2 linked regions of the Homo sapiens genome follow. The protein of the gene in region 1 interacts with the protein of each later gene in a pairwise test. Each region holds a gene or a part of one and is shown on either strand. Other genes may lie near its edges.

Evidence for each region.
Region 2: the proteins of KIF26B (region 1) and MX1 interact in a two-hybrid assay, tested with the Homo sapiens proteins (one study listed by BioGRID).

The regions. Positions count from the first base shown.
Region 1 is NC_000001.11:245,153,737-245,171,289, reverse strand, and holds the start of KIF26B (kinesin-like protein KIF26B), read right to left. Parts: upstream 16,306-17,553; 5' UTR 15,866-16,305; coding exon 15,803-15,865; intron 15,009-15,802; coding exon 14,607-15,008; intron 1-14,606. UniProt on the Homo sapiens protein: Essential for embryonic kidney development. Plays an important role in the compact adhesion between mesenchymal cells adjacent to the ureteric buds, possibly by interacting with MYH10.
Region 2 is NC_000021.9:41,436,234-41,452,248, reverse strand, and holds part of MX1 (interferon-induced GTP-binding protein Mx1), read right to left. Parts: intron 15,235-16,015; coding exon 15,097-15,234; intron 12,556-15,096; coding exon 12,401-12,555; intron 11,363-12,400; coding exon 11,224-11,362; intron 10,534-11,223; coding exon 10,335-10,533; intron 8,462-10,334; coding exon 8,383-8,461; intron 6,802-8,382; coding exon 6,679-6,801; intron 6,250-6,678; coding exon 6,108-6,249; intron 5,136-6,107; coding exon of another isoform or gene 4,957-5,135; exon of another isoform or gene 3,113-4,956; coding exon 2,954-3,112; intron 1,083-2,953; coding exon 1,006-1,082; intron 1-1,005.

The sequences.
Region 1 (17,553 bases):
TTACAGGCGTGAGCCACCGTGCGGGCCCCATGTAAGAATTATTAAAGACGATGCTCTTAAACGATGTGCTGAAGAGATATAATGTGCTGAAGAGGTGCTCTTAACTAATGTGATGAACTCTACTCTATTTCTCTTTGGGAGAACCAGCACGACCCTGTCAATGTCCGTGGAAAAACCATCCTGCCTCCTTGTCACTTTCACCAAAAGATCAAAACCAGCTCACTGCATTCCTCCACTCTCTTCAAACTCCAAGGTAGTCCAAAGCCTTTAAAGGGAGATTTCTTTCTTATTCTCATGCCCAACTCCATTGGGATGTAATCACATGTTACCATCTCACCAAATAATGGAGACAGTGCAGAATCAATTACCAGATAAAGGGAAAAATTAAACCAAACATGAACACTGCCTGAGGGGTCAGTGTCTAGACAAGTGACCTCATGCTTGCTGCAACAGACTGAACGCTTATGTTCTCCCCAAAATCATGTTGAAACCTAACCCCCAAAGTGATGGTAGTAGGAGGTGGGCCTTTGGGAGCAAACTGGGTCATGAAGGCAGAGCTCTCATAATTGGGATTCCTGCCCTTACAAAACAGACCCTGGAGAGCTAGCCAGTCCCTTCCACTACGTGAGGACACAGCAAGACAGTGCCATCTATGAATCAAAAAGCAGACCTCACAAGACACTCAATCTGATGGGGCCTTGATCTCAGAATTCCCAGCCTCCAGAACCGTGAGAAATCAGTATTTCTGTTGTTTATAAGCCACCCAGTTCGTGGTATTTTGTTATAGCAGCATGAATTGGCTAAGACATTTGCCCTCTATGTTTGGTTCTGATAAGTTTCGTCCCTGGAACACCTGGAACCAATTGTAAGCATCCAGTGAGCATTCCCACATGTCTTTATTCTGCAAGGGTAGAAGTGGATATGAGGGCATGAGACTTAGCCAAAACAAGGACGTATTGACTGACAAGAAATGCAAGGACCCTCAAACCAGCCGACCCATAAATGCCTAGACTAAGCTCCACCGAGGTGAAGGCGCTGCTCTTACTCTGTGCTCCCTGTGAATTTCACTCTTTGCTGGAATACAGGAGGCCATGTCAGTGGGATGGCATCACGGCACTTTCCAGGACTCACCCAGGCATCATCTCCCATCCCGCCATTTGTCACCACCGTCCCATCCTCTATCATCCTCTTCCTTCACACCAGTGACGTTTTGGTTATGCAGCAGTGGACGGGTGATTTTTTTTTTCAAAACACCAGAAATCTACTTGGTACACAGGCACCAAACAAAAAACAAAGTGAACAAGACAGGACATTAACTACGCTCACGGAGTGTAGTGTCAAGGAGATCCACATGGGCAAGAGAGCAGCATAAATAAATCCTCTTAAATCTTTGAAGGAGATTCAGAATCCAGAGGTTTTCTGGGTGACCCTGGAGAAGCCTCCTAAACCTCTGCATCATTTTGTTATCTCCTTCCTGACCACCATAAAGGGGCATTATGGAGGATCCCTAATAATTATGAGCCCTCTATAAAAAAGGTAAATTAGCAGAAACCACCACCACAAAAAGCCCACAGCCGGGCAACTTCCTTCCCCCAAGTGGATGCCTCACACAGGAAGCAGAGTGCCTCATTGGATATATTGAAACCATGCCTTTGTATCGCATTTACCACCCCGGCTGCAAAAAATGCTTGTAAAGCCATCATGGGAGGACTAGGAGCTGCCAACCGCTTCCTCTGCTCTCAGCCTGCCGAGAGGGTCAGCCATCCTTCTCTGCTGAATGCTCTTGTAATTGCACGGCCCACTTTATTAGCTGCCTTGACCTCCAATAAAAGCTTCAGCCTAACAATGTCTGAAACCTGGGGCAGAATGTCTACCGTGTTACCACCTTACATGCTGCCTTCAGGGCCTCCACAAAGTGCTTGCGCGCACACACACACACACACACACACACACACACACACCATGGCCCGTTAGAAAGTCGAGTGCATGGACAAACTTAGGGGCAAAGAACAAGAGGAGAAATAAAGGGTAGAATGTCTGAGGACACAGGCAAGCTTGCATGGAGGGTTTGCTGTGGGTTGGATGTGTCTGGCTGCAGAATGCTCCATTCACGCCCTGGTAAGATACGTGCAGAGAGCTCGGTGGAAGGACGAGGGAGGGGCACCAAGTGGTGTTCCTGGGGCTCGTGCTCCTCTGTGCCTGTTCTCCACTCTGCTCCAAAGCCATCACGCGCTCTGGACTAGTTAAACAAAATCAAGTTCTGCTTTTAATAGCTATATTCCCTGAATTGTGTTTAGACTCAAATACAAAGTATTAGATTTGAAATAAGAGTCAGGGAAACATCCCCCAGGAAGTAGATATTTTAAAGAGGCAACCTTGGCTAAATGATTAAAGAGAAAAATAAAAATCGATGATAACTGCATGGGCCTCGTTGACTCAGCGGGCAGCTACCTGTTCCATTCTTTCCCAGACCACAGCATCAAACACTACGGGGCATTAAACCCACGTCAGGGGCATGTGATATGTAAATACTGGCCTAATCAATATGGCTCTGTCTAGGCATTTGAAAGAGCAGAAAAAAAGAGAGAAATCAAAGGGAGCAAAAAGATTTTGGAAAAAAATCAGATGAAGAATGATGAATAAAATGTTTATAGAGTTCTGGTGTTCCTATACTGCTACTCAGGAAGAACTCTTCGTATGTTATTTCTAAATCCTAATCAATATGGCAGAACTTTTAATGTAAAATTAACTACAAAACATCCTTATTTCTAAGGCAATACTTTTCTTCAAATACTCCATACTAAATCTCTCTTCTAGAATCAATTGTCCTTTTGTTTGTCTATTTCTGCTTAGAAACACATTAGACAGTAAAACAAATAGCTTTATTAAGAAACAGGAAGAACCCTGTCAGTTTATGATCCGAATTCCAAAAGCAGAAGCATCAGCAACGACGGCGCTACCGGCCCCTCCGCTTGGCTTCCGGTCCCTCCCCTTGGCTGGACGGACAAGGAGGTCGCTGCGGCGGCTGCAGATGAGATGTCCCACAAACATGGCAGCCCACAGAACAGCTTCAGCCAGAAACCCACTTGGATTTTGCCAGGCACATCCCTGTGGAATCTGGGTTCACGGAGTGGACTCCCAAAGCCTCAGCTTCACAGAGACTCACAGGCTTGGGAGAAGCTTAGAGCCCACCGACTACCATGCTCTTAGATTACAAAAGAAAAATCAAGCACAGGCCAGCTAGGTGATTCTCCCAAGATCATAATGCTTATCAGTGCTGGAAGCAGGACTGCACCTCTGTCCCCAGATCCAAGGACAGTCCTTTTTCACCTAAATATCTGGGATTGTAGACAACCTTGGATGCGTATACCACCCATTTCTTTGTTTCCTCGCCCTCTCTCTCATCCGTCCTCCTCCTCCTCCCCTCTTATTCCTCTCCTTTCTATCCTCCTCCCATCTATCCCTCAGCCCCCATCACCACGCTGCCTGTCTTGGTAAAGGACACCTGATGCTCTAATTCCCAGCCATGGTACCATGGGGAAGACACTCTGCCACCTGCTTAGGACTGAGACTCCCTGCTGTGCAAAGTTACACAACTGAACTGGGCAGGTGATTTTTTTTTTTAAACAATGGTGGCTGCTTCCAGTTGTTTGCCTGAATTCAGCTGTTTATTTTCTGTACAACCATTTGGTTAGATAGCTCGACAGCTTTTGGTGCTGGTTGTTATTGCTGGCTTCTAATCAGTTAATAGGTGAGTCTCCCATTCTTGTGTGAAGCCACCAGTTAGGTGGAGGAAGGGTTGGGAAGTAGTGATTATAACCCCAAAGAAAGCAACCACTCTAAATACGATGATAGAGTTTCATGGGGAAGTGTAGCTGCTCATCACTGCCAACTCAAAGACAAAATTACACTGCAGAAAAATCTCAAGTTCTATCGGTTCCTAGGTTAGCTCAGAAAAAAAATCCTGAATTAGCATATACAGACCTCAGACATCACTTAGATAAGGACATATCAAAATAAAAGTTTCTATTTGTCACCCCTGTGATAGAAAAGCGGATTTTAATTTATTATTTGCAGCTCATGCTTTCAAGCAAAAAAAAAAACAATTATATAAAAAGAAAGTTTACACGTAAGAACCATCAAAGATTTTAGAACCATGCTGTGTGGAGAGCTAAAATTTGTTCCAATAACTTTTTGTGGTTGGCAACAGTATTGAACGTAAACTCCAATAAGTAGAAAAGGAAAATCAAAATAGTCCCTCAGCTGTAACCTGGTCTATAACACTTAAGACATATTTATCGTTCTGCATATTTAAAAAATTAATAATACTTACTCTACCCTCAGAGCCTTCTGCTTTGCTAACCTCTATAGCAACGTTCAGAATGTCTCGGTTTTTTGTATTAGAGCTCACAGGATCCCTCTCCTCCACGGTCACCTCCAGCCCTGAGAGCTGATGTATGTGCAGGATATCCTGCTTGGTGGGGGAGGGTGACTTCTTTATTCCCAGACTTCCCATGGGGTCTGGTTGGAATCGATGTGATAGGATCAGCAAAGTACAACTGCAAAGAAAACCGTCTGAGACAGATAAAGCTGGATTGGAAGGCAGATAAGCCCAAATTCCTGGTGCGGCTCAGATCTGCACATCGCATGCGCAGTCACTGGAGGAAATCTGCTCTCCCTCATTCCCCGGAGCCGAAATGCCAAATGCCACATCTGCAAGTCTCCCTGGAGGGGCTACGAGAGGGGCCGGGCTTAAAGAAGGGATTTCCATCTGTGACAAAAAACTCTCAATCCATATTCATGGCACCTCAACCCAAAGGAGTCGCTATTTACATCCACTGAGCTCCCTTAAACTTTCTGTGGTGACAACTCTACAAATGAATAAATAAGAATGAGATGCTTTATCCACTTGGAGGTGAAGAAACAAAGACGCACTGAATGCTTTCATTTTCTCTGACTGCTGTTTCTCCATTTTCGTGTCAGATGGAAGGAAGGAAGGAAAAAAGGAAGGAAAGAGGGAAGGAAGGAGGGAAGGAAGGAGGGTAGGAATCTTATATAAAATTCAACTTCCTGTGGAAAGTCACTGGAATAATAACAGAAAGCGATGGTTGACTAGCATCTCACAATTTCACCTAATCCTCACGATCCTCCTGGTGGGGCTCTGTCATGACTCCCACTGTAGAGATGAGAATAACCACGTTTAGAAAGACCAAGGCTTGCCCAAGGTCACACCCTAAGTGACGGAGCCTGGTTTTGCACGCAAGTCTGTTGATTGTAGTTCTTCATTTTAAGATAATAAGAGCCTCAAGAAGTGGATCTCTTGTATCTCAGTGTCCTCAGCAACTCAAATGCTGCCTGAGATGTCCTCACCTCTCAATCTATTCCTGGACACAATGCCATTGGCTTTCTCCAGGGCACCAGAAATTCTTCCAACAAAGACATCCAATGACCTCCTCCTTGCCAGTTCAAAGAAAACCTCAGTCCTTACTTCCTTGACCTCTCCAGGGCATCAGACCTTTTGTCACCCCTATGCCCTGAAGCTCACTCCTTCCTCAGTTCCCATGACACTGTCTTCTCCTGGTTTTTCATCCCTCTTTTCTGGTCCCTCCTTCTTGGTCTGTCTTCTTAGCTCCTCAGGCCACTGGTCCCTTCGATGTCAATGGTCTCCACCACTTCATGTTCAGCTGTCTGTCGTCTCACCCCACACATCTGTGGAGAGCTCATGCCGTCTGTGGATTCCATCACCTTCTCTACGCTGACATCCCCCAGATCCATATCTCCACCTCAGAAGCCGCTCTAGAGCGCCAACAGGAGCCCATTGGACCATTCCACCTCAAGCTCTAGAGACCCCAATCAATTTAACATCCACAGCCATCCTCGAACACTGGGCTCACAATAACAAAACCCCTTCTCTGCCTGTATTCTTCATCTCCATAACTGGCAGCACCACCCACACACTTTCCCTGGCCAGAAACCTGGGAGAATGCATCATCTTTTCTCCCTCTGGCCCCGTATCTCAGCAGCTCCCCATGGCGGGTTTTCTACATATGATATGTGTCAGGCCGGAGCTGCCTCTCCCTTCCCTCTGTACTACCCTAGTTCAGTCTGTGTCATTCTTCACTCAAGCCACTGCAAGGGGCCTCCCAACTGGTCTCGGTGACACCACTCTTCCAACCCATCTTCTTGCTCATTCTCACAGCAATCTTTATTTTTTTTTTAAAGATGGAGTCTCGCACCGTCACCCACGCTGGAGTGCAGTGGCATCATCTTGGCTCACTACAACCTCCGCCTCCCGGGCTCAAGCGATTCTCCTGCCTCAGCCCCGAGTAGCTGAGATTACAGGTGTGGGCCACCACGCCCGGCTAATTTTTGTATTTTTAGTAGAGACGGGGTTTCACCATGTTGGCCAGGCTGGTCTCGAACTCCTGACCTCAGGTGATCCACCCGTCTTGGCCTCCCAAAGTTCTGGGATTACAGGCGTGAGCCACCGTGCCTGGCCAGCAATCTTTCTTAAATGCATATCTGATCATTTCACTCCCTTCATGAGTGCCCTCCAATGGCTGCCCACGTCCTACAGGATAAAGTCCAGCCTATAGCCTACAAGGCCTTTCATCCTCCATCTGCCTCCTTTCCAGCCTGTCACGCACTCATACAAATACTGTGTATGGTGACCATGTGCGACTTCAGTTCCCCATATGTAGGGGGCACGCATCACCCCTTCCTGGCCTATGCCTGCCGTTTCCTGTGGCTGGAACGCTTACGCTTCGCCACGTTCCTTGCCTGTCTCTGACACTAGACTGTGAGTTGCTCCAGGGCAGGAATTTTAGTATTTTTCCTATTTGGATTATAATGTGGCATAGTACTAGAACTGGCACATAAACAGGAATCAAAAATGTTCATTGGCATATGAATATCAAAGCAAAAACAATAAATGAAATATTAGCAAATTGGATCCAGAAGCATATCTTTCAAAATGCACTGTGGCCAAGTGGGGTTTATTATGGGAATACAAGGATGGTTCACTATTAGAAAATCAATAATAATAACTCACAATATTAACAAATCTAAGGAGAAAAATTGCATGATTCTCTCTCTAAATACTGAAAAGACATTTGGCAAAATATAATACCCATTCCTAATAAAACACTAAAGTAGGAATTGATGGATATTTACTTAACTTTAAAAAATATAGACAGATCTCAGTCCAAAAGCCAACATCTTAATAGAAAAAAATATATACACATGCCCACTATATCGCTATTATGTAACATTGTGTCAGGAGTACCAGCCAATGTAACAAAAAAGAGAAAACACTTAGAGGCATAAAAATAGCAAAGGAAGAGAGTAATGATATCTGTATTTGAAGAAGACAAAATTTTTTGAAAATCCAAGAGTACCAATTTTTTAAAAATCAGTGAATATAGTAGAATTTAATAAGGCGACGGGATATAAAACATGTAGATCAATATCCTTCACATAAATAATTATCAATTAAAAGAGATAATGAAAGTGAAGACTCCATTTACAATAGCAACAAAAGCTATAATACCTAAGAAAAAGTTTAACAAGAAATGTGCAAAGCCTATATGAAGAAACTCTTAAAAATTGCTAAAAAGTAGACTTGTTCAAATGAAAAGGTATTCCATGTTCTTGGGAAAGATTCAACACCATAAAGATGCCAACTATTCCCCCAGGTTAATGTATACATTCAACACGGTCCTAACAAAAAAAAAAATTGGAGTTAGGCAAGGAAACTCCTAGAAAAGAAAGGCACTATTTGAGGGAGAGAGAGCTAGCCCTGCCAAACATGAAAACATGCTACAGAGCTTCCATAATTAAAATAGTGTGGGCCAAGCGCAGTGGCTCACACCTGGAATCCCAGCACTTTGGGAGGCCAAGGCAGGCAGATCACTTGAGGTCAGGAGTTCAAGACCAGCCTGGACAACATGGTGAAACCCCATTTCTACTGAAAATACAAAAATTAGCTGGGCATGGTGGTCCGTGCCTGTATTTCCAGCTACTTGTGAGACTGAGGCGGGAGAACTGCTTGAACTTGGGAGGCGGAGGTTGCAGTGAGCCGAGATTGTGCCACTGTAACCCAGCCTGGACAACAGAGTGAGAACATTCTAGAAGATCCTGTAATAGGTCCAGATACAACTGAAAATTTGATTTATGACAATGGTGGTATCTTCAATTAATGTGAGAAAGATAAATTCTTTTTTTCACAAGAAGAAGTCTGCAAGTAAGAAGAATGTTTTAATAAAGTGGGGACAACTGGATAGACATTTAGAGAAAGATGAAATTTGATCTATATCTTTCATTTTGCACCAAAATAATCTCTCAATGGATTAGAGATCTAAATATTAAAAAGGACACTATTTAAATACTAGAAGAAAACATAGGTGAGTTCTTTGAGACCTGGAGGTGGACAAACATCTTTTTAACAATCACTCATTTCCAATTTTCTCAGATAGGCTCTGGAGCAGTTCCAAAGGCAATGGTAAGCCAATGATGGATACAAACTGAGTTGATATCTTGACAAATATTTCAAAAGTACATTAGGAATACAGGTGTATCCCCAGTCCTTTTGCATCTACACGAATGTACTTTAAAATAAGATATTTCTGCCTGTAATCCCAGCACTTTGGGAGGCCAAGGCGGGTGGATCACAAGGTCAAGAGATAGAGACTAGCCTGACCAATATGGTGAAACCCCATCTCTACTAAAAATACAAAAATTAGCTGGGCGTGGTGGCGGGCGCCTGTAGTCCCAGCTACTCGGGAGGCTGAGGCAGGAGAATTGCTTGAATCCAGGAGGCAGAGGTTGCAGTGAGCCGAGATCACGCCACTGTACTCCAGCCTGGGCAACAGAGCGAGACTCCGTCTCAAAAAAAAAAAAAAAAAAAAAAAAAAAAGATATTTCTGATGGGTGCATCTATAGGTATAAAAGAGCGATTGGGAGCACATTCTCAACAGTGCTCCTTCGCCACAATAACACCATAGACGAGAAACAGGAAAGAAAGGATGCTGATGAATAGCTTGTGACTGCAGAGAGTGGTAAAAAGGAAATTTGTCTTGTATTCCTGCAAAATGACCAAGAACCCTCCCAGACACCAGCCAATTTGCAATCTTTTTGAGGACAAAACAGAGCAGAGGTCTGGCCGCCCTGCCGATGGGGCACTGAAATGGCCGGCTGAAGAACTCTTCCTCGCAGAAGGTCAGGACGGGGCCCTCGGGCAGGGTTTTCTGTTCAGGAAGGGATGACAACAGGGTCTCCAATGGGTGCACGTAAATATAAGGAGGTTCCTTCCCCCCGCCCCTTGCATTCCAGCCAAGACAATTCCTCAACTCAGAACCTGACAGTCTCACATACTTTCCCCCAACCTCCCCACTCACTGGAAGTAAAATTCTCATCTGTGAGCCCAGGAAAAATAATAACCATCTCGAGCCGGTGCCTCTCACTCAGTCAGTTCTACTCACAGGGACCCTTAACAGCTTCTAGGGGAAAGTGTGATTGGATTTCTCTGTTCCTTGCATATTTTTTCTTCATGCTTCCTTCTATGATCTTAACCACATCAAGCACTTGGAATTCCAGGGTAAAAAAGAAAAAATCACGTTCATCTTCATTTTAATATATGAGATTATGTGTGTGTGTGTTTCAGTGTAGTTCGTGGTATGTAGGACAATCGTTGTTAGCCATTTATTACATATTATTATTATTACTATCATCGCTATTGTTGGCCCACTCATGGTACAATCTGTGATATAATGCCAAATAACAAATGGCAACTGATGTTGCCTCCATTTTAATTGACTTAATCCTTCCAAATGCTGACAAACTACCAGCCTCAGCCATTTAAAAATCACATTTCTAATGTAGTAATCCTATCTGCAATGGGTGTGGAAGGAATTATTGCAGGCCAGGGATTTTTGCAAAGTGAATTAAGTCACTATAAAAACTGACCATGTTGCTTCACAATTAATAGTCTGGTAGAATGAACTGCCATTATTCCACAGCTTGCTAAGCCTTAAAAAGAGATTACTGCTCACATGTCTCTCCTGGGAATGTTTTTATAAACTCCCAAAATGTTTCAGAAATTTTCAAATGATAAATGCTGTAGGACTTTTTCATGACTGCTATTATCTACTAACTGCTCCTTTATCTAAAATACTTCTGATATGAGAAAGACTCAAATGAAGCTTTTTGAAAATAGCCACATGTTCTTAGAAGAAAGAGAAGATTTCAGCTAGAAGTCCCTTATAATTAATAAGTACTCGAAATGCAATGTCTGTTTTATCCTATCTATAAAATGTTTTATGATGGCTTTTGGGGGACTTTTTGCGTCTAGTTATTTTTCCATACCCCTCTTTTGGAGCTGGCAAAATACAGAAATATGCATGTGGGGATATCTATATCTCCTCAAGTCTAGACTTACTTGGTCTCCGGCTATTTAGAGTCCACGTTTGGCGTTTTTAACCCCTATGACGCATTCCTTTCTTTCATCTCTGTGATTCCTGGCCACCCTTCTCAGTATGTCTGGCTAATCTTCCTGATATTTCTGGGGCATAAATGGACTCAGAATATCTGACTGAGAGACAATCAGATAGGAACATAGTTCTGCACTTTTTTTTTTTTACATAAAAGATTTTCTTTTATTGATATGGAAATGAACAGATGTCTGATAACCTTTTGCCAACCTGGAGCTTTACTGCTTACTCCAGGGAATTTCGTTGGGCTGTTGTTTCGTAGGACTTGCCCAGTCCATTCAAAAGTTCTGTCACAGATATCAGAATGATCTAGGCTAGCCCAAAATTGAGCAATTCGTTCCTTGGCCCCTATTTCTGGCTCAGTGCCCTGACTGTGTACAAAGCAGGAAAGATGCTCTTGCCATTGGACATGAAATGGTTTTGTATTCACACACTGGAAGGCTACAGTGGGTAAAAGGGCCATTCTCACTTAAAATCTCAACACTTTACACGTCCACATTCTTTTATCCGACCACTTCCACTCACCGGCACCAAAAGAGAAACGATATAAACCCAGTAAGTACTTTTTGTACTGATCAAGGTAATAAAAGTCAATCTGAGTGTTTTACAATCTGCCACCAAGCACAAACGTCTACTCACCAGGTAAGTTGCTATCGGAAAGGATGAATACAGAGTATCAACAGCAGAGCTATGTGAGCTCACAGCTGTCACTTCTACACGCCAGTCTTGAGATAGCCAAAAACAAAGTGTTTTATTATTAAATCTGCCTCCATCTCTTTCCAGAAAGCTCAGACTCGCTGCATGGAAAACCAAACTCATGATCATCCTTCCCTCTGAGCTCCATCCAATTCCATGTCTCCTCCTATTTCCTACCTCAGCCAACACTATCACCCACTCCGTTACGTTCAAATAATGTCATTTTCTACCATGAAGCCCTATCCTCCATTGGAGTGCTCAGAATAAGATGGTTCTTCTCAGGCCACCAGAGCCAGGCACTAGCTCCTGGAACCAACCAGATACCCGGAATGGGCTCTCTACTACTTCACCTCCCCTCCTTAACCAACTGTTCCAAAGACAGAACGGGGGATTCAATAGGGCTTGCTACCTACCAACAGGCACAGTGTGAGAACTCATATGGCAGCATGTTTAGAAAATATACAGATGAAATTAGAAACTGACAGGAGTAATATCTTATAAGAAAAACCTTAAATTCTGTAAAACATAAATCTAACAGAATCTTAGCTCATTAATAATCATCAACCCTCATATCTTTCTCTAAAGAATGAAAGCACTTTTCAGACCTTACCTTGGATCATTTTAATGACGTTTTAATAGTCTCATTCATTTTTTTCCTTAGGATATTAATAGGAAAGTTAAAAAGTAGAGAGGAAAACTAATTTACCCAATGTCACAAAGTAAATCAGTGGTGAAGAAGAACCAAAACCAAATCCATCCTAAAATATTAAGGTTCCTGGATGTGCTATTCTGCTTTTGACTTTTAAATATCTACCTAGGAGACATTTAATACCACCTAGTAGAATTTAACACTCTATTTAAGAAAATATTTCCCAAATGCAGGTAAGCATCTTAAGCAAATTACACAGATGATTTTTGTTAATTACTCCTCAAAAACATGTCTTTATCTTCCAGACTCTTACTCTTCAGAGCGAACTGAGCGAACTGCATGTTGGAGTCACAGTGACACCTCTTGTTCTAATGAAACTTAACTCCTTCTGTGCCTGAGGGCTACAGTGGTCCACAGTTTGTTCATTAATATTGCTCCGGGAAGAAGAAAAGTCTTATCCAAGTTACATGGCCTCCATCCATGGTACACCAGAGAACATGGCAACTGTTTGGCTATAAGGTTGCAAATGCTAAAGGTATAATGGAAATTGTACCTAAATGCAAGGTACAAATGCTTAAAACACACACCACACACACACACACACACACACACACACACAATTATTATTCACAAAGGCTTGCAGAAATTTTGTAGTTAAAATTGAGGCCCCACATCTCATTACTAACAATGAGCTGATGCAAAGCATCCTTCTTCCTGGCTGAGCCCTGTCTATGCCCTTGCACCAAATGTCACGCTTTACTGTGCTGCTTCACATATAAAACTCAGGCGACTGTGGTACTATGTGACATTCACGTATGCACTTAAAGTGATCCCCTGTGACTGCCCCCATGACTGCCAGGTCTTCTCTAGATGTCCTTGGATCACTCGAAGTCATTGTAGAGCATGGGGGTTCAGCAAATCCAGTGTTTCTTCTGGGGCCATCACCTCACTCTGACAATACAATCAGTTTACCAACAAGAGTTTTACCTTATCACATACATAAAATTGGCAAATATATTGAGCTGCCTCCCGTGACACTGTAAGTGAATGTTCCAGGCTGTTTCTATAAAAACAAGATTCCAGCTGGTCACAGGACTCCATAAAACATGATGGATGCGTATGAGTTTCAACATTTGTTTCCTCTGTAGATTTTCCTTCCCCTCCTCTTTTTTTAAATGAGAAGAGTGTATTTTGATCGGCCTTTGCATATAGGAACACCCAAAGCCACAATAAGCCTATTATAAGAATAGGTCCTCAAGAAAGGTCTAAAATAATTTGGTAGGCTGTAACGTATTAGGACTGCCAAATATCAGCTACTAGATCTTTAAGAACCAAGGTCCTTCCATCTTTATCAGATGCTCCCATCCAGTTCAACAACCTCACAGCACCCTACATTCCCTCCACAAATGTGAAGACATTGTGAACTGTGCATTTTGTGGTTGTTATCTGTATCCTCCACTAGAATCTAAGCTCCACGTGGACAAGGACTGCATGAATGGACCTGGTATTTTCATTGCTGTGCCTGACACAGTGCCTCGGATGGAGTAGAAAATCAATGAATATTGATGAAGGATCACGAGAGCAAATAAATCTGTGAATGAAGAAACGGTGTTAAATCGGAAGGTCTAGCACGCAAGAGCGAAATAAGCTTTTTGATTCCTTGAGATGTATCCTTGGGATGTCACGGCAGATGTATCAAACTACAAAAACGGTACACTGACAACCATCCACGAGTTCATTATTCTTGAGATAAGTTCTGCATTCATAAAACCAATTCTCCTGGTGGTCATTTCCCCCATTTTAAGTTTCACAGCGTCTGTGGGCATTTGTTGAATTTAACCCTTGCCTATGAAAACATCAACGTGTGTATCTGCATACGCAGGTTGGGCCAGCAGACGCAGTCATTCCTAAACGCCTACTCGAAATCACAGTATTTCATTTCTAAAGTCACGGAAATAATAAACCAGAAATTGACGTTGAACCAACAGTGTCAAAAACCTCTACAGCAATCCACTCTATTTCCTTGATATTGCTCTCTAACCACTGATAAAAACTCTTTGAAGTGGCCGAGTAAATATGATCATTTGATAGTACTTGGACCCAACAGTGCAAATACAATCGCATTGCTATCCCCTGGGGGCTCGGGCCAGTCACACACTGCGGGCAGGGTTGCTATGGAGGAACCAGTGTGCTTGGCGCAGGAGCAGGCCAGGAGGGAGCACTGCTCCGAAGAGCCACCCGCCTCCGGATCTTCCTCAGACACACACACAGACTGAGAAGGGGAAAATGCTGGCTTTCGAGTATGTTTCTGTTTCTGCAACCGCGGAAAGGATGGACCACAAACAGGCAGTGGGAAATGCCAGCTCCGAGCATCAGCTTGCTTTTACAGCTCCCGCTGACATTTTTGTAAAGGATCACAGGTGGGGGTGGGGAGAAACATCGAAAGCGCAGCCTGCAGCCGCCAGGGAGAGCTGGGAGGGGGCGGCAGGAGAGACCACCTGGGGGCCTCCCCCGTGGGCCGTGAGGCCTGTGGCCACGGGCGCCCCTTCGCGCTCGGGACTCGGTCCTCCTGCCCCCCGGGCGGCCTGGCTGAGGAAGGGGCATGGGTCGCCCCGCGTGCTAGAGCCCCGTGAGGTGTGGAGCATCCCCAGCGCCGCCGGGGGCTCTCGCGTGGAGCCGGCGCGCAAGGTCGCGGCGGGCTGAGCAGCTGCTGTGGGTGGCGGCCCGGCCCCGCCCTCCCGGCGCCTCCCCAGCCAGCCCCGCGCGGCGCTCACCTTGCCCGGGAAGGGCCCCGGGAGGAGCAACCTCAGGGCCTGCCTCTTGAGCTCCACCAGGCGGGCGTTGCAGTTCTCGCACCAGACGCCGCGGTCCGAGCCGGGGGAGGAGCCGCCGCCGCTGCCGGAGCCCGGGGAGCCTGTGCCGAAGCCCGGAGAGCCGCCCAAGGAGCCCGGCGAACTAGTGCCGATGCCGGGGGAGGCGGGTCCCGGGGAGCCGGTGAACGAGCTCGGGGACGAGGTGCCCGAGCCGGGAGACGGGGTCCCCGAGGAGCCGAGCGCTGAGCCCGCGCCCTCAGGAGTGGGCCGGCTGCCGGCGCGCGACTCCTCGTATGCTTTCCGGTACCAGCTTTCCGGGGAGAAGGGCGCTGCGGGCTTGGTGGGCGAGCAGACTTCATTCACCTGCGGGGAAGACACGCCGGTGTCAGGGGCTGCAAGGCGGCGGGCTGCAGCGCCCAGGAGCTGGGTCATACGTGCGCCACCAAGTACCCGCTCGAACCGCCCACGGGAGTCGGTTGGGGACCTCTCCAAGCCCTGCGGCCAAATTGCCCTCCGTCTGTCTCGTTAATTGTCCTTAAGTGAGTCCCCACCGCCCAGGTGACCCCTGCGCTGGTCCCCGGTGGCCTCCTCCTGGGGTCAGGAAGGGGACTCGCTCGGGGCCGTTTCCACGGCTTCTGCAAGGCGGGGGGGATCCATAGGTTCAGCGCCCCACGCTTTTGAAGCCGGCACCTATCCCAGCAAGATCCCGGGAACAAAATCCTGGAAGACCCTATGGGGGGGGTAGGGGGAGGGCTGTGATTTCAGGATTTTTATTCATACGGGGTCCAACTCTCCGGATCCTGCAGGTAAACGAGAGGCTCTCACGGCTCCAGCTAAACGATCCGAGGTACTGCCCAGCATTCATGGGAAACCCTCCCCTTCGGCTTCACTCTGCCTAGAAGTGCAGGAATGCGGCAAAAGTTACGGGTGCGTGGAAAGGAAGGAACGAGAGGGCTGAAAAAATTCCGAGAGCGAGGCGAGCGTGCGGGCGTCCCCGCGGCCGACCCGCCTCCGCGCACTCACAACCCCGCCAGCCCCGGGGGCGCCTCTGCAGCGGGGGAGAGCTCGGGGCCGGGGCCGCACGATCCCGGGGAAAGGGGGACCTCCGCCGAGATGGGTCTGGTAACGCGTCTCCGCGTCGTACCGTCACAACTTACCCCGTATTTCTTGCCCCTGGTGGAGACCGCAAGCCTCTCTTTATTCCCAGCTACCGAATTCATGGTGGCTTTTCCAGAGGAGAGTATCTAAAGGTTCCACCGACGCTACATCCAGAAGGTCCTCCAACCCAGAAGCGTCCCCCGGCTGCAGGGGGCTGGCTCTCAGCCCTCAGGGCAAGGTTTCTTCAGCGGTGGGGTGGGAGGGAATGAAAGCAAATGGATCCCACAAGTAATAGCACCAATTTGCAGAAAGGGTTGGGGTCGCTGGTTTATTCTTCTCTTCAAAGCATGCTTTTCCTCGTCCCCTTCTGCCTCTTCCAGCCGCACGTCCTCTTGTCACGGCCACATCCACAGAACTGGCATTTTCTTCAGCCAAGTCAGTCCGTGCTCCCCCACGAGGAAAGCGAGGGATACAATCAGGGCTCGCGGCCGCTGCCGGGAAGGTGGGAGAGCCGAGCCGAGTCAGCTGTGGGAACTTGTCTCCTTCACCGAGCTTGGTAACTGAGTTCAAAGAAATTCTCCCAAAATATAAAGATCCAGACTCGGGGAGGAGCCTCGGCGTGTCGCCGAGCCAATATCCGCCGGCCCGTTTCGCCTGACAGTTGCGCGAGGGCCGGGAGAGGGGCGGCTCCGCGTGGCCCGGGAGCGGTCGGCGGTCACAGCGCGCGTGTGCGCCCGGGCGCAGCGCGGAGGAGCCTCGGGAACCTGCCGCCCTCGCCGCGCCGGCCGGGATCCATTTTATGTGGCGGCGCTCGTGCCTGACATTGCGAGGCCTGGAGCCGGGCTGGGGCTGGGGGCGGGGGATCGTCGATCTCGCCGCGTGCGGGGAAGTTCCTGGCGCGCGGCCCGGGCCCGGGGCTCTAATGAAACGCCGCTGCGCGAGCCTGGAGCCCGGGGGCCGCGCGAGCGAGCGTGGCTGGACGGAAATGCGGTGCCCCAGCCTCCCCCGCCCCCAAGTTCTTTCTCTTCCTGACAAGGCTTGCAGGTCTGTCTGTGAAACGCCGTGCAAAAGGGATTGAGTCACAAACAAGTCCACAAACATGCCGGGTCCTCCCCCCGCCCTTTGTTCTCGGAGAGCTGCCGGGCAAACCTTTTCTGGAATTGCCCTACCGACCCCGGGCCGGCCGGGGGGCCACCCTCCCCGACCGCAGCCGCAGGACTAGGGCCCTTGGTCCCCCGCCCGCCCGAGCCCCGGTCTGTGATGGACTAAGCCGCCCGGGGCTGGGACAGGTGAGCCTGGTGACCCAGCGGGCCGCTGCCGGGCAGGGGAAACTGAGGGCTTCGCCGCGCTGCACGCGGACGACTCTGGCCTGGAGAGGGGGTGTGGCGCGAGCTGGCCTTGGCCTCTCCTTGCGTGGGATCGGGCCCCTCGCCCCCCGCCGCCCGTTTCTTCCTGCGCCTGGGCCCCGCGGGGTCTCCGGAGCACCCCGTCATCGCTCCCTCTCCGATCGCCCCCCGCCCCAGTCCCCCGGCGCAGCGCCCAGGAGCGCAGGAAGCCGGCGTATGCCAGGCTCCACACGTGGCTGCTCTGGGGTGTCATTTTTCATTTCACGGGAGGACATTTCTTCTGGTGAGCCAGCAGGTCTGTTTTGTTGTGACCTTTAATTAACACCCCGCGAGACGCCTCTGGAAGGACTGGCCGGGCGCAGGGATCACGTGGGGTGTAACGGCATCTCCGCGCCCGCGGGGAGACCCAGCCCGGGGGTGGGCGAGGGCGCGAAGGACGTTCAGGGCTTTCTGGTCGCTGACTT
Region 2 (16,015 bases), on another chromosome or scaffold:
GTTTAAGTCAGAAAATTATGTTTTATGTTCCCGGGGTTTAGAGAAACTGGTTGCCAAAACCTGAGGAGGAGAAACTTCACCCCTGGACCCTCCAGGCCTTGAGGAGAGGCACAGTGCACAGTGGCAGGTGCATCCTAAACATCTTACTCCACGTCCATCTCAACCTTCTGAGGAAGGCCTTATCAGTCTTCTTTTATGAATGAGGAGTCAGGGGCACAGGCTGGAAGTGGCACATCCCAAGGCCTCCAGCTGGTGAATCATGGGGCCAGGCTCCTCATCTGTGCCGGGGACACCTATTTCTAAGAGTGGCTAAGTCTGGTCTCTTGGCCCAGTCTGTCCCCCAGGCTCATTTCCTGTAGGCTCTTTCCTCACTCTGGATGGAAAGTTTTTTTGTTTGTTTTTTTTTTTTTTTTTGAGACGGGGTCTCGCTCCATCGCCTAGGCTAGAGTGCAGTGATGCAATGTTGGCTCACTGCAACTTCCACCTCCTGGGCTCAATCAATTCTAAAGTGTCAGCCTCCCAAGTAGCTGGGATTACAGGCATGCACCACCACGTCCAGCTACTTTTTTGTATTTTTAGTAGAGATGGGGTTTTGCCATGTGGGCCAGGCTGGTCTCAAACTCCTGGCTTTAAGTCATCTACCGGCCTCAGCCTCCCAAAGTGCTGGGATTACAGGCTCATCATGCCCACTCGGGCCAGAAATATTCTATTTTTATATGTAGTTTCCTCAGTGAGTTTCTGGATTTGGAGCCATTGCCCTTAGATGTGATAATCTTCTCCGCTAACTGTGGATCTCTTGTTCTGTGCGTTTAAGCACTCCCTCCTTTATTGCTTTTAACCAGACATCACCGGTAACATCAGAAGAAGCACTAGTGAGTGATGTTATTTGCTGTTCTAAAAGTATACAATAAAGTTGAAATAATCCTCATCCAAGAAATCTATTTTCTAGTGTCAAGCTTAATTTCTTTTCTTTTTTTTTTTTAAACAACACATGGTTGGTTTTACCTTGGCGGTTCTGTGGAGGTTAAAAAACTCTTCAAAATTTTTTATCGAAACATCTGTGAAAGCAAGCCGGACCATATCTAATCAAAGAGAGAAAAATAGTTCAATATTGGTAGGATCATTTGTTCTCTTCTTAAGATGCAAAAAAATATGAGGATCAAATGGTATGAAGTAAAGTTTCCCCTCTCCCCGCTCCCTTCTTCTCTTTACCATGAAAAAGCAAGGCATGCTCTTTTTGCTTAATAATTTGCTGGAAGAATCTTAAAAGCAAATGACCCCTGGCATACATTTATTTGATATTTAAACTTTTTATCCTAAATAGCTGCAAAGAATGTAATTTCTTTTAAATTATAAATATTAATATTTTATAATACAACTCTTAATATAAGTCAAATCACTCTTAAATATATCAATGGAATTTGAGTGTCTACATTATCCATTTGAAAAAAATACAAGAACAAGCTCTTAGATTAAAAAATTTATATTATTTATCTTTTATTTTTGAAACTCATTTCTATTCTACTTCCTCACAGAATTTTATTGTAATACAAGGTATAGTATCTTTATGATTGAAAACCTCTTATTGATCTCCATGTCATACATTTCTGAAAAAGAAATAGGTATATCTATGTTGATTTTTATGACTATAAGGCTCTAAGTATTATAAACTTTCCTCTGGAATGAGTTAAGAGTCTACAATGGACCAAAACAACATGATTGCAGGTTTTGGTATATGATTATCAGGGCTAAAAGGTCAATTTTACTGGAAATACACCTCTGAATGAGCTGTTCTGAGGCTATCTCCAGCTCCTTAGTTCATGGATCCATGAGTGATTATTAATTACTGCTAAGATGAGGCAGCTGAAGTGTGAGTAAGGATACTGTCAGTCAAGGAGAGGATGAAGAATAGAGATTTAATACCTGGAAAACCAAGAAAGCAAAGCATTTCAAGAAGGGAGTGGATCCACAGTAGGATCTAGTTTCCTACCTATCCGTGACACACCTAGATTCCTACAGCACTCCAAAAGGTTCCAAACACATCTACACGTGCAGTTATGGAACCATTGGCTTTACTCCTCGGAGATTTCAAATAAACAGCCGATTTTGAGTGTGAAGCCAGCATAGCAGTGGAGCAGGGGGGAGGTGTGGTGTGATAGGAAAAATATAAATATTTTGTCTTTGTCCCCATTTCCTAACATAGAGCCCCTACATCTCTTGGAATGTCCAGCCTTAGGAGTATCTCGTGTTTTGAAGAGATGATGCCTGGTGGGCCCCTACATAGCTTCAGGATTGGGGCCGGGCACTAGAAAGACCAAGCCTTGGCTAGAAACTTAGAACTTCCAGCTCCACAGAGGAGGGAGGGCCTGGAGATTGAGTCAATCCTCCATCATGCCTTCATGATGAGGCCTCCATAAAACCTTCTCCGCGGTGAGGTTCCAAGAGCTCCCTGGTTGATGACCACATCTCTGTGCCATGAGGATGGTGCCCCCAACCCCGTGGGGACAGAAGCTTCTGTGTTCAGGCCCCTACTATGTGCCTCTCCAACAGCTTCATTTGTGCCCCTTATCAAATCCTTTCTAATAGACCAGTAAATGTCAGTGAAGTGTGTTCCAGAGTTCTTGGTTGACCTGAGGAATGGGTCGCAAGAACCTTGATTTATAAACAGTCCATCAGAAGAATAGGAGGTCTGGGACTTGTGACCGGCATTTGTAGTTGGGGCCAGTGTTGTGGAACTGAGCCCTTAAGCTATGGGGTCCACACTGACTGAGGGTAGTTAGTGTCAGAATTGAATTGAATTGTTGAATACCAACTTGGCATCTGGAGAATGAGAGGTTTGCTCGTTGGTGTGGGATGCACCCCAGGAGGAAAGTGCTGAAGTTTGGTGCTGGCTTTGGTTCGAACCTTTCCTTTCTTTAGAAATCAATGCTCAGAGGTGAAACTGAGCACTCACCCGTCACGGTGTGTAGCATATCCACAGCCGGCTCTTCCAGTGCCTTGATTTGCTGTTTCACGATTGTCTCAAATGTCCTGTAATTCACAAAGCCTGGCAGCTCTCTACCACGATACTGATTTTCAAATTTCTGGATTTTTCTACTCAAAATTTTATGGCCTATAGCAGGAAAAAAAACCCTCTAAATTATTTTACAAAAATAATCTTGCACATTTTTCTAAACACAATACCATTCTAAATTTTCTGAAAATATAAATGGCAAGAAAAAGTGGTATCAAATCAAATCTAACTGGTAAACTAAAAATATCCAGGGATTACACACACACACACACACACACACACACACACACACACACACACACACAAAACCAGATCTGAAGATAATTTTCCTTAGTCATCTCAGGAAGGGGAGTGCAGAGCCAGGTACGATGCCAGGAACCCACATACGCAGAAACTTCGAGTAAGACCCTTTTTTTTCATTTGTTTGTTTGTGACAGAGTCTCGCTCTGTCACCCAGGCTGGAGTGCAGTGGCGTGATCTCAGCTCACTGCAAGCTCTGCCTCCCGGGTTCACGCCATTCTTCTGCCTCAGCCTCCCAAGTAGCTGGGACTACAGGTACCCGCCACCACGCCCGGCTAATTTTTTTGTATTTTTAGTAGAGACGGGGTTTCACCGTGTTAGCCAGGATGGTCTCAATTTCCTGACCTCATGATCCACCTGCCTCGGCCTCCCAAAGTGCTGGGATTACAGGCGTGAGCCACCGTGCCCGGCCAAGACCCCTTCTTAAAAACGTACTCGAGTATGAAGTTTTGTGAATCCAATTTTAGTTTTACCAAAGAAATTGTACCATAATACACTCCTTGCCCTCAACTGCATGCCCATTAGAAATGAGCATGAACACTTTCTGGAATTAACAATACATCACATATTCATGTGTCGAAAGTATTGCCATGTGTAGAAAGTGTTTACAAGTCAAATGGGATAACAGAGTAAACCAGGCACATCAACTTGTATGAATGTGATACAGTAGCACTGTTCACTGTGTAAGATGCTGCATTTTTCTTTAAACTTTTGGAATGATTTGTACTCCCAACAATCCACACTAGAGAGAGTTAGCCCCATCAGAAGTTCAGAGGGTTTGAGTTCCTTTTTGAGTGGTAATCTAGAACACTTTTTTTAGTCAGGAAATATTTTCCCATAAGGATTTTTCTAATTGAGATGTCATTTACATAGTATAACATTCACTCTGTTAAAAATATATGGTTCAGGCCAGGCACAGTGGCTCACGCCCGTAATCCCAACACTCTGGGAGGCTGAGGCCAGTGATCACCTGAGGTCAGGAGGTCGAGACCAGCCTGGCCAACATGGTGAAACCCCATCTCTACTAAAAATACAAAAATTAGACAGGTGCCTATAATCCCAGCTACTAGGGAGGTGGAGGCTGAAGCAGGAGAATCGCTTGAATCTGGGAGGCAGAGGGTGCAGTGAGCCGAGACTGAGCCACTGCACCCCAGCCTGGGCAACAGAGTGAGACCCTGTCTCCAAAGAAAAAGAAAAAAAAAAGTGTATGGGTGAGTGAATTTTAGTATATTCACAAAGTTGTGCGACCATCCCCAGACATAACTCCCAAACCCCACATCCATCACCCATCAGTGATAACTTCCCACTTTTCCCTCCCCAGCCCCTGGCAGCCACTATTCTGCTTTCTGCCTGCCTGGGTTTGCCTGTTCTAGCCATTTTCTATCAATGGAATCATAGACCGTGTGGCCTTTGTGGCTGGCTTCTTTCACTCAGCATGACATTTTCAAGGTTCATCCATGGGGTGCTGTGGACCAGCACTCTGTGCCTGTCTGTGGCTGGAAATATTCCAGGACTTGGTGTTACGGGCTGAGCTTGAGTTGTGACCTCTTCAAACTCCAATGTTGAAGTCCTAACCCTCAGAAACTCAGAATCTGACTGTGTTTGGAGACAGGCAAAGAGGTAATTAAATTGAAATCAGGTCACTAGGGTGGGCCCTCATCCCATCTGCCTAGTGTCCTTGTGGGAGGAGATGAGGACACACACACTGAGGGACAACCACATGAGGACCCAATGAGAAGAGGCCATCTGCAAGGCAAGGAGAGAGGCCTTAGAAGGAACCAGCTCCACCAACATCTTGATCTTGGACTTCCAGCCTCCAGAACTGTAAGAAAATAAATTTCTACTGTTTAAGCCCCCCCAAGTCTGTGGTACTTTGTTATGACAGCCAAAGCCAACCGCTACACACAGACACAAGCCAGTTGGTTTATCAATTCATCAGTGGATGGTCATTTGGGTTCAGTGATATAGAAGAGAGCAAACATGGCTTTAGTTGTCACTAGCTCCTTATCCTGACCATCCTCCCCAACTGCCCCACTCTTCTCTGTCTTAAGCCAACGTATCAGGTTTACCACGGTATTGACTCATTGCTATGGTCTACATGTTGGTGTCCCCTAAAAATTCCTATGTTGAAACTTAATCCCCAGTGTGATGGTATCAACAGAGGAGACCTTTAGGAAGGATTGGGTTATGAGCACTCTGCCCGCATAATGGCATTCCAGGCATATCTTGTTTTATTGCACTTCACTGATACCGTATTTTTTACAAATTGAAAGTCTGTGGCAATCCCATGTCAAGCAAATCAGCACCATTTTTTTCCAGTAGCACATGCTCACTTTTTGTTTCTGTACCAGCAATTTTTTAGCAATAAGGTGTTTTAAACTAAGGTACATACATATTTTTTAGGCCTAATGCTATTACATACTTAATAGACTGCAGTAGGGCATAAATGAACTGTTTATGCACCAGGAACCAAGAAGTTTATATGACTTGCATTATTGCAATATTCTTTTTGTCTGGAACTGAACCCACAATATCTCTGAGGTATGCCTGTGGTACCCCTGTAAAAAAGAGGTCCGAGGAAGCTTGTTCGTCCCTTATCCCATGAGAGGACACAGCTAGAAGGTGCCATCTTTGAAGCAGAGAACAAGCTCTCACCAGACACCAAATTTCCTGATTCCTTAAGAATAGATTTCTCACCTCCAGAACAATGAGCAATAAGTTTCTACTGTTTATAAATGACCCAGTCTCAGGTATTCGGTTGTAGCAGCCCAAAAGAAGGGACTAAGACACTCACCTTCTTGAAAATTGTTTTCAATTATTGTACTCCATTTGTGGAACTCGTGTCGGAGTCTGGTAAACAGCCGAATGTCTTCCTCCCCTACAGTTTCCTCTCCTTGCATGAGAGCAGTGATGTCCTGATTAAAGGCATTAACTTTCTGTCAAGAAGAAAAACATCAGTATAAGTGGATAGACTTCAAATCCAAGTGTCAAGGTCATTTGGAGGCCGTGCCTATGTGGAGGGTGGGGAGTCATTCTTTGCTTTCTTATGGGACACTGTGGATCAGGGGAAAGAAGAGGTTTTGGCACTAGAAAATCCTATCCCACCCCTTACTGCCTTAGGGATCTGGGTGATGCTCGTGACAGAGTAGGCACAACGCAGCCTGAGCATCCCTCGCTGCTGACTCCACCCCCACATCTGCACTCCCTGCCCTGCCTCCCTCAGCCCTGTCCACCCTTTGAGTGCTACGGGCCAGATGTCTTTGGATCAGCCTTGGGGGAGTGAAGAAGGAAGTGCATAAGGCCCAGGGTCCCTTTTTTGACCATGACATGTGCTTCTCCAGCTCCATGCAGCTGGCAACACTCACATCTATCAGGAAGAACATTTTTTCATTTTCGTCTTCCGGTATGTCGACACCATACTTTTGTAGCTCCTCTGTTATTCTCTGGTGAGTCTCCTTGATTTGATTTTCTAACAGGGGCAGAGATTTCTGAGGAAAATGGAGAGAAAATAATGGAAATGTGTAAAGATGAACAGAGAATGAAAAGGAGGTCCCGGGCCTCCCTCTGCAGAGGAGTTGTGTGGGCCATTTGACTTCCTGGCTTCCTCTAAAAGGAAGCTTTTCCAGACCCGGGGGAGGTGCAGGGGGGCACACACTGGGGGCACTGTTTTCTGCCCAGGTCTTCCCCCTTCCCCACTCCTGCGACAGCAGCCTCATGAGCAGCACTGTGGCACCCACTGTGCATGGGTCCTAGGCCCCGGCAGAGTGACCCGGGAGCAGTTCCTCTGTGGTCATATTAGGTAAACTCTCTGGAGGGAGACTGGAGAGATCCACTTGTCTAGTAGGTTCTGAAAAAGTGGCATTTGGAGCAATTTGAGATTCAACAACTTTTATGTTGCTTGCAATCAATAAAAAGTGATCAGAGACTTATGTTTTTAACAATACGGTTGACGCCATATGCTGGCTCACCCTTCCACGGCAAACATCTAAAAATGCCAGCTGACATGTGAAAGCTGCACCTTTAAATGTATCGGTGGACTCACAAGTTAGTGAGGGGTAGTCAGAGGCCAGCCCCAGTAACAGTGGCCAGGCAGGGGCTCAAGGAGAAGGCAGCAATGAAGCCCGGCTCAGCCACAAGGGCATCTGTCTAGGTAAGAAAATTCGAACGGGAACTTATGAACCTGACTTGGTGCAGAGGCAAAAAATCAATCCCCATGGGCTTGCTCGAGGTGGGGAATCTAATAAGGAAGCATCCTCTTTCTGCATACAGTGGGACCCCAGAGAGCTCTGCACTCATCATGGTCGGCTGGAAACAACCCTGTTATGCACCCGCATTCCTGGGGACCACGTGGAAGACCTTGCACTCTGGTGCTGAGTTGAAAATTTGAAAAAGGCCAGTCTGGTCAACATGGTGAAACCCTGTCTCTACTAAAAATACAAAAATTAGCCAGGCATGGTGGTGGGCACCTGTAATCCCAGCTACTCAGGAGGCTGAGGTAGGAGAATTGCTTGAACCCAGGAGGCAGAGGTTGCAGTGAGCTGAGATCACACCACTGCACTCCAGCCTGGGCAACAGAGTGAGACTCTGTCTCAAAAAAAAAAAAAAAAAAAAAAAAAAGAAAGAAAAGAAAAGAAAAGAAAATTTGAAAAAGGAAGACACTATATTCAGGCAGACTTTTAAAAAGAACCACAGAGAGCTTTTACAAAGCTTTTAGAAGTTAAAAAATATGTTCATTAGAATGACTAAGACATTATAATAGTGGTTGTCAATGAGAAAGGAAGAGTTAGTAGCTTGTGCATAAGATTTTAATTTTTATTTTGGCCCAGTAGATATAGTCTATCAGCATTCCCCCTGACTGTGGTCCCCTGAAAAGGAATATCCACATTGTCTGGGGGCTTGCTGGAAATGCAGAATTCTAGGCCCCACTCCAGACCCACAGAATCTGAAACTGCATCTTAACAAGATCCTCAGAAGATCTGTGTGTACAGTGATGTTTAAGAAGCCAGCAAGGTTCAGCTCTGCGGTCGTAGTATTCTTTTTAGAGAACCCACAGCTCTGCCCGTGCTTACACAGATATGTGTGATGAGCTCGCTGGTAAGTTTTTCTGCCAGGCAGGGAACCGTGGCCTTTCCTTCCTCCAGCAGATCCCTAGAAGAGAACACAGGACCGATTTCCACCTTGATGTAGCCAGAACACGCATGTCTGCCTTTTTGCTGTTGGGGAAAGTCAAGGCAAATTTCAGTTGCTTACAACTGGATGGAATGTCTTGCAGTTGGTACCCAACAAATACTCAGAACTGGATTGAATAGGATTATGACTGAATTTTAGCAATCTAGGATATTTCCACAATGATATGGAATGAGCTCTTCCAGCTGATATAATAAATGTGTATCATGGTGTCTGACTATAGACTTGGTCATCACAAAAATACACAGACATGTATAGATATGTTTTTATAACACATACCCCCTTCTATGTGTAATATGTGTAGGTGATCATAATGGATACAGACATATCTTCATACAAATACATTGAAGCATATTGAGATAAATGGGTAGCAGAACACTGAGGAGAAGAGACACAAGATATCTTGTCCAAGATAAAAACTTAAACCATGGGCTGCCTGGAGGAAGGAAGTCAAGTATCTTCTCACTCGATCCAAATTTGTGCTCACAGAGTGAGTTATTACAGGGTTTCCCACATTTTATAGGACATTTTAGGATAAAGGCAGCAGTGAAGCATGAGTTTCTGTGCCTTTTTGTGAGTATACTCATACCTAAGCTTCAGTTTCTCTGTCAATTTTTCTAAATTGTGGTAAACTACATATAAAATTGACCATTTAACCATCTTTAAGAGTACACTTGAGTGGCATTAAGTACATTCACACTATTATGCAACCATCACCACTGTCTGTCTTCAGAACTTTTCATATTCCCAAACTGAAACAATGGCCCCATTAAACACTACCTGCCCATTCTCTCTCTCCCAGCCCCTGGTGCCCATCATTCTTTCTGTCTCTATGAATCTGACTACTCCAGGGACCTCAGCTAAGTGGAATCAGACAGTATCCGTCCTCTTACGACTGGGTTCTTTCACTTAGTAGAATGTTCCCAAGCTTCATCCATGTTGTAGCATGTGTCAGAATGTCTTTCCTTTCTAAGGCTGAAAGTATTCCATGTTTTTGTACAGACCACATTGCTTTCTGCATCCATCCATCAATGGACACTGAATCATCTCATCTTCTGGCAATTGTGAATGTGCAGAACAGGATGTAAGTTTCCATTTGATATTCCTGGAATTCTGAGTAATGGCTCTCTGTAGGCTTCTGGGAGAACTGAATGTAAGAATGTTTACAACTCTACATAGTCTCATCATTTTAAATCTTACCAATTTGTCAGTCTTTTCCTTTTAAAAAATGTCACTTTTGGTAGGAGGGATAGAAAAATCTTATAAACTATTCACCTACCTTTCTTCTGAGATGCTTATTGCTTCCTCTTAATATTTAACTTTAAACTTTAACTATTTTGGTATAATGAGATAAGTAAGGGCAGTATTTTAGTTTTTTCCCAAATATTAATTATCCTAACACCACTAATAGATACTCAAGCTGATATAGTCCACTATTTGATTTGAAATGCTGCATTTATCATGTGTCAAATATATATATCTAGGTCTATTTCTGGGCTTTCTACTTTTTTCCTATTCTCTTCTATTTATGTTTTTATAAAATATGGTTCCAGCACCATGCTACGTAAATTATTGTACATTGTTCTCTCCCTATTTTGATTGGTTTTTAGTTTTTTTTTTCTTGGCAGTATTTTGTAATCCCCTTCCTATTCTTCTAGGTGAATTCCATAGTCCTTGTTGGGGAACAAGCATAGTCACACACACACGCGCACACACACACACGCACACACACACACACACACTCCACACATCTGTGGGACGGCTGCCACTGTCCCCTGGAAGGCCTGACATCCTGGGCTTGGACTGATCCATGATGAAACCCAGGCAAGCGCACCTGAAATATGGGTGGTTCTCAAAGAAGATCTTCTCTCTCTGCAGGGCTTCGGACAGGCTCAGCTGGTCCTGGATCTCCTGCTGGCCCCGGCACTTGACAATCATGTAACCCTTCTTCAGGTGGAACACGAGGTTCCGCACCACGTCCACAACCTTGTCTTCAGTTCCTTTGTCCACCAGATCAGGCTTCGTCAAGATTCCTGCGAGCCAGATGTATTTGGGGAGAGAACGTGCTCAGTCACGAGGCAGAGGTGAACGAACAACTGCTCACGCCCCCGGCCTCCCAGGGTTTCCTCCCATCCTTGCTTGAGGACAGGCCATAGCCCCTGCAGAACCATGGGGGCAGTGGAGCCCCGCTCCAGAAAAGAACTCCACGACAAGCCGCGTGAAGGCAGGGATGCCTCCCAGAACAGCATGTGGCTCTCCCCAAGCTCCTTCACCCGGGTCCACTGTAGAACACGCCACGTTTTGTTTATCCCTTGAGTTATGGACATCCCATCTCAAATGCATTCTTAATGAGTACCATGTGCCTCCTGAGTTTGACCTGCTTCCGAGCCCACTGTGCCTTTCTGAGCAAGTAGATAAGGCTTACAAGGCAACCTAGCCAGTGAGAGTCAAAAGCAGCTCATTTCACTTGGCCTTGGTGGGCACCAAACCTGCTCCCTTAGCAGGTCTTAGTGGAGGCAGGTCCCCACTGAGCAAAGCCCATGGAGACTGGAGGGACGCTTGCCCACTGGCAGACCACCGAGCACAGGCGGGCTCCCCCATTCTCACCGAGCACAGGCGGGCTCCCCCATTCTCACCGAGCACAGGTGGGCTCCCCCATTCTCACCGAGCACAGGCGGGCTCCCCCATTCTCACTGAGCACAGTGGGGCTCCCCCACTCTCACCGATGGTCCTGTCTCCCTCGGGGTCCACCTCCTGGGCCATGCTGAGAGCCTCTGTGGTGGCGATGTCCACATTACTGGGGACCACCACCAGGCTGATTGTCTCCTGCCTCTGGATGTACTTCTTGATGAGTGTCTTGATCTGTAAGGAAATGAGAGGAGGTGACTCGTGAGTATGGCAAAGGCAAGTGAGAGGTGAGACAAGTCCTGACCTTGCACTTGCTTTAGGCCCTAAGAGTCCCAGGGGTATTTCCCCCAAAAGAAGTAACTTTGGAGAAATGAACCCACAAACACAACCCTGGAGGTACCAAGCTGGAATTATGAGAAAATAAATTATCTGTGGCAGAAGCAGAGCTATAGGCTCAGGGAAAACCATGAAGTTTCAGATAATTAACCCCTAAGACCTCAGATCTGATGGTCACAATGAAAAATGGTGGCCAAAAAACCCCACTTCACCCCTAAATCTTTAATCTGTAAAGTGAGATTCACTGATACTAAAATATCATTATACCTATTTCTTTCTTGCTTGTTTTGTTTTGTTTTTTGTTTTGAGACAGATTCTTGCTCTGTTGCCCAGGCTGGAGTGCAGTGGCACAATCACGGCTCATCACAGCCTCCCTGGTTCAAGCAATCCTCCTAGTAGCTGACAGGTGCACGCCACCATACCTGGCTAATTTTTTAACCTTTCTTTTATAGAGAAGGGGGTCTCACTATGTTGCTCAGGTTTCTGTCAAACTCTTGGGCTCAAGGAATCCTCCTGCCTCAGCCTCCCAAAGTGCTGGGATTATAGGACTGAGCCACTGTGTGTGGCCCATTATACTTATTTTTAATGCTCTCTTCCCACATAAGACCCCTTCCTAATACACAGCACTTTAGATATGCTGCAAAATGTATATAACCAAAAACAAGTCATTGCATAAAACATAAAACAAATACACAGAACACATTTCCAACTGTGCCCACTGGCCTCACTTTCTCCAAAGAAGCTTCCATTCAACTTGACAGAACAGACTGTGACCAACGGGCTCTCTAAATTCCCCACTCACACCTCCAAATACTAACTCCAAAACTCAGCTCTGGACTCACGGTTACTCTAATACAGTACCCTCTTTCTCCTCCCACCCCTCCACTCCCCCATCCCCACGCCACGGCCAAGGTCAGAATGGGTCTGAAGTCTGACCTTATACCCAATGTCAGCAGGCTGATTGCCCACAGCCACTCTGGTTATGCCAGGAAGGTCTATTAGAGTCAGATCCGGGACATCTCGGGAGCTGATCTCCAGGGTGATTAGCTCATGACTGATTCCCATTCCTTCCCCGGCGATGGCATTCTGGGCTAGAAAAGAGACAGGGAAAATCAAACCCAAACAGAGCTTAGGATAAACGGATCTCATGATGGTGAATACTCTGAAAGCATCTTCTCCTCTCTGCGAGTCATGGATAAAAGCATATTTGGAGCAGATTCAATTTTCTGTGATTGGGATAAAAGAGATCTCAAAGGATAACTCAGTATTTTCCCTGCTGTTGGCCAGCACTGTGTGTAGAGAGACCTTGTGAGAACGTCACCATGAGTGACACCCACTTAGACCAGTCCAAAGCTGGGCGGAGGCAAGAAGTTCTTCCTGGTAGCATTCCTAAATCCTTCTCATTGATGTCAGTAGGAAATTAGCAACCAAGCAAAATAAAAACAAATAAAAATATATGGAAATGCCTAAAATATAAACTGGAAAATTATATGGGGAAATGTGCTTATTTTAGCTAAGATAAGCACTGGCTGTTAACATCCCATTAAGAGATTTTATTTTGCTCCTTCCTCCTTAATGAATTTTAGGATATGAATTTGTTTCATCAAATTGTTGGCTAACACCACTTTACTCTTTTCTAAATCTAGAATGCCTTTTTGGGATGTTTGATATCAATTTAGAACTTAGGAAATATCAGTGGTTATGGTCCACTAATTGTTCCCCCAATATCCATGTACCTGCCATGTGGTCATGAGATCGGGTTCTGGCCAATGGGCCATGTGAAAATGTTATGTGCAACTTCCAGAAAGTGTGCTTACAAAGGCAGAGATATGCCCCTTGCCATGGTCCAGCTGGCTTCAAAGCGGACTTGCTGACTAAGTCACGGGGGGGCCTTGGAAACAGAGGCCACACCCAATGAAGAAATGGGAGAAGAATAAATCTTGGTTCCTGACATTGGAATCCCCAATCAGCTCTGGTCTGCCCGCCTTCAGACTTATATGAGAGGGACAGAAAGCCTCTACATTGTTTAGACCGCTGTCTCAGCAACTTGCTGGCACAATGGCATCCACATTCCCTTCCATCCCTGTATGCACGCTACTTTACAGGGTGCCTTCGTCACTTCCATGGAGAGAGAGAAAATCGGTCCCTTGAAATTGGGCTTGGCCACGTGACTTTCTCTGGCTAAGGGGATGTTACACAGTGCCACGTCAGGAGAGACCGAAAGGTGTTAGATGTCGGGTCTTGCCCTCTCTTGCTGCTGGGAACCCCTCCACCCACATTGATAAGTCCAGCTTAGCCTTCTGGAGGGTGAGAGACCACACAGACAGAAGGCCCGGTCACTCCAGCCAAGGGCCATCCTGGACCATCAGCCCCAGCCCAGCTAGCCCAGAGAAGAACTGCCCAGCTGGTCCATCAAATCATGAGAAATAAAAGTGGTCAAGCCATTAGTTTTAAGATGGGTTTGTTATACAGCAAGGGCTAAGGCACACAGTTATTTTGAGTTTTCTGCTGCAAGCAGCCAACCTAATCCCAACTAATTCAAAATCACGGTTTGTCAATAACATTATTTATCTTTCTTTAAACAGTCAACAAATGTGATTAATGCTCCATCTTTACAAATGCTAAACCCGTCCCTTCCTACTGCTGGGCATTAGTTCATGTCTCTTCAGTACCTTCCCAGTGTGAATGAAACTTAAACATGTGACATGCCAGAAAAACATGAAGGTCGATAGGAAGATGTTATCCATGCATCTCACAGAGGCTGTTCTTTGTCAGCTACTCTACCCTGTCTACACTGCTGGTGTCATTTCCCCTTGCAGACACTTCAAATTGATCCTTGTGGTTTGCATTTATGGAGGCCTGCCATGAATTAGCCTAAGCTGGGATTATGCAAACACAGTCACTCCTCTTTCTTAGAAAAGGGTGCTGGTTCTGAGTGGGGTTCAGTGACGATCCTGTCCACAATGTGGAGTTCCTTGTACAAAGGAACAGGGGGAGGAGCTCCCTCACCCCCATATCTGGCTCCTCTTCCTGCCAGATCTAAGTAGGGAAGCCCTTGAATAAGGGACAGATCATCCATATGTGGGGACATTTTAAAATTCACATTATTCTAGATACTTACATAATAAGCAATACATGTGTTTTTGAGACAGGGTCTCACTCTGTTGTCAGGCTAGAGTGCCGTAGCAAGATCACGGCTCACTGCAGCCTTGACTTCCCAGGCTCAAGCAACTCTCCCACCTCAGCCTCCTGAATAGCTGGGACCACAGGTGCATGCCACCCTGCCCAGCTATTTTAATTTTTTTTTTTTAAGAGACGGGGTCTCACTATGTTGCCCTGGCTGGTCTTGAACTCCTAGGCTCAAGCAATCCCCCCGTGTCAGCCTCCCAAAGAGCTGGGATTACAGGCACAAGCCACTGTGCCTGGCCAGAAATAAATGATTGCTATCAGATGCTGATATCCAAGCGTGCTGGTCATAATGAGGTAAAAGAAGTAGAAGGAACCGTGGCCTGATGTGCAGGAGAAAGGTGTCCTGACAGCACAGGCCCAGGGAGGTGGGAGTATGAACAGTTACAAACAGACCCCATGCATGTCAGAAGGCTTGACCAGGCATCCAAACAGGGGGTACTCACCTTTATTAATTTCCTTTTCTACCTCTGAAGCATCCGAAATCTCAATCTCGTAGTCCTGGTAACTGACCTTGCCTCTCCACTTATCTTCGTTCACAAGTTTCTTCAGTTTCAGCACCAGCGGGCATCTGGTCACGATCCCTAGGAGGCCACGCCCACATCAGTGCTCCACTTTGCTCTTAAAAGACCTACATAGCGCCTTAGGCCCATGGTTCTCAAACTTTTATACAATCATATGGGGAGACATTTAAAACTGGAAACTTTCTGGTCTTACCCTCTGATATGCGGGGACATCGCACTGTGTCTGGGTGACCTCAAGAACATGCATTCTGAGTATGTAACCCAGGTGAGTTTTTGCTTACTAACGCTTGAAAGCCACCACTTTTGGCTTCCTGCCTCATCCCAGTGTTCTGCCATCAGCTCAGGTGGCAGACCACATTGGGAATCCCCCGAAACTCATCCGAACATCTTCCATTATCCCCCCAGCATACACACTCTACCCCCATTAGGAAAGCATCCTGCTGCTACCAGGCCACCTTACAACAGTCCTCCTACTGTAAACTCCTTCCATATTCTTCCTACCACACCTGATCTGTATTGCAAGACCCGTCCCAGGCCTGAACTCTTTGAGACCTCACTGATATAGTTCTGAACTGGGGGACCCAAATGTGTTTATTCAGATTCTCCTCAAACTGTAGATTACATATGACTTATGTGAAAAAAATGTGCAATGAGATAGCGTTATGAAATGGTGTTCCCTCCAAATTCCTATGTTGAAGCCCTAACCCCTAATGGGACTGTATTTGAAGATAAGGCCTTTAAAGAGGCAATTAAGGTTAAATGAGGTCATTAGGGTAGGCCCCAATCCAATATGACTGGTGCCCTTATGAAGAAGGGGAAGAGACAGCAGAGATGCTTGTGT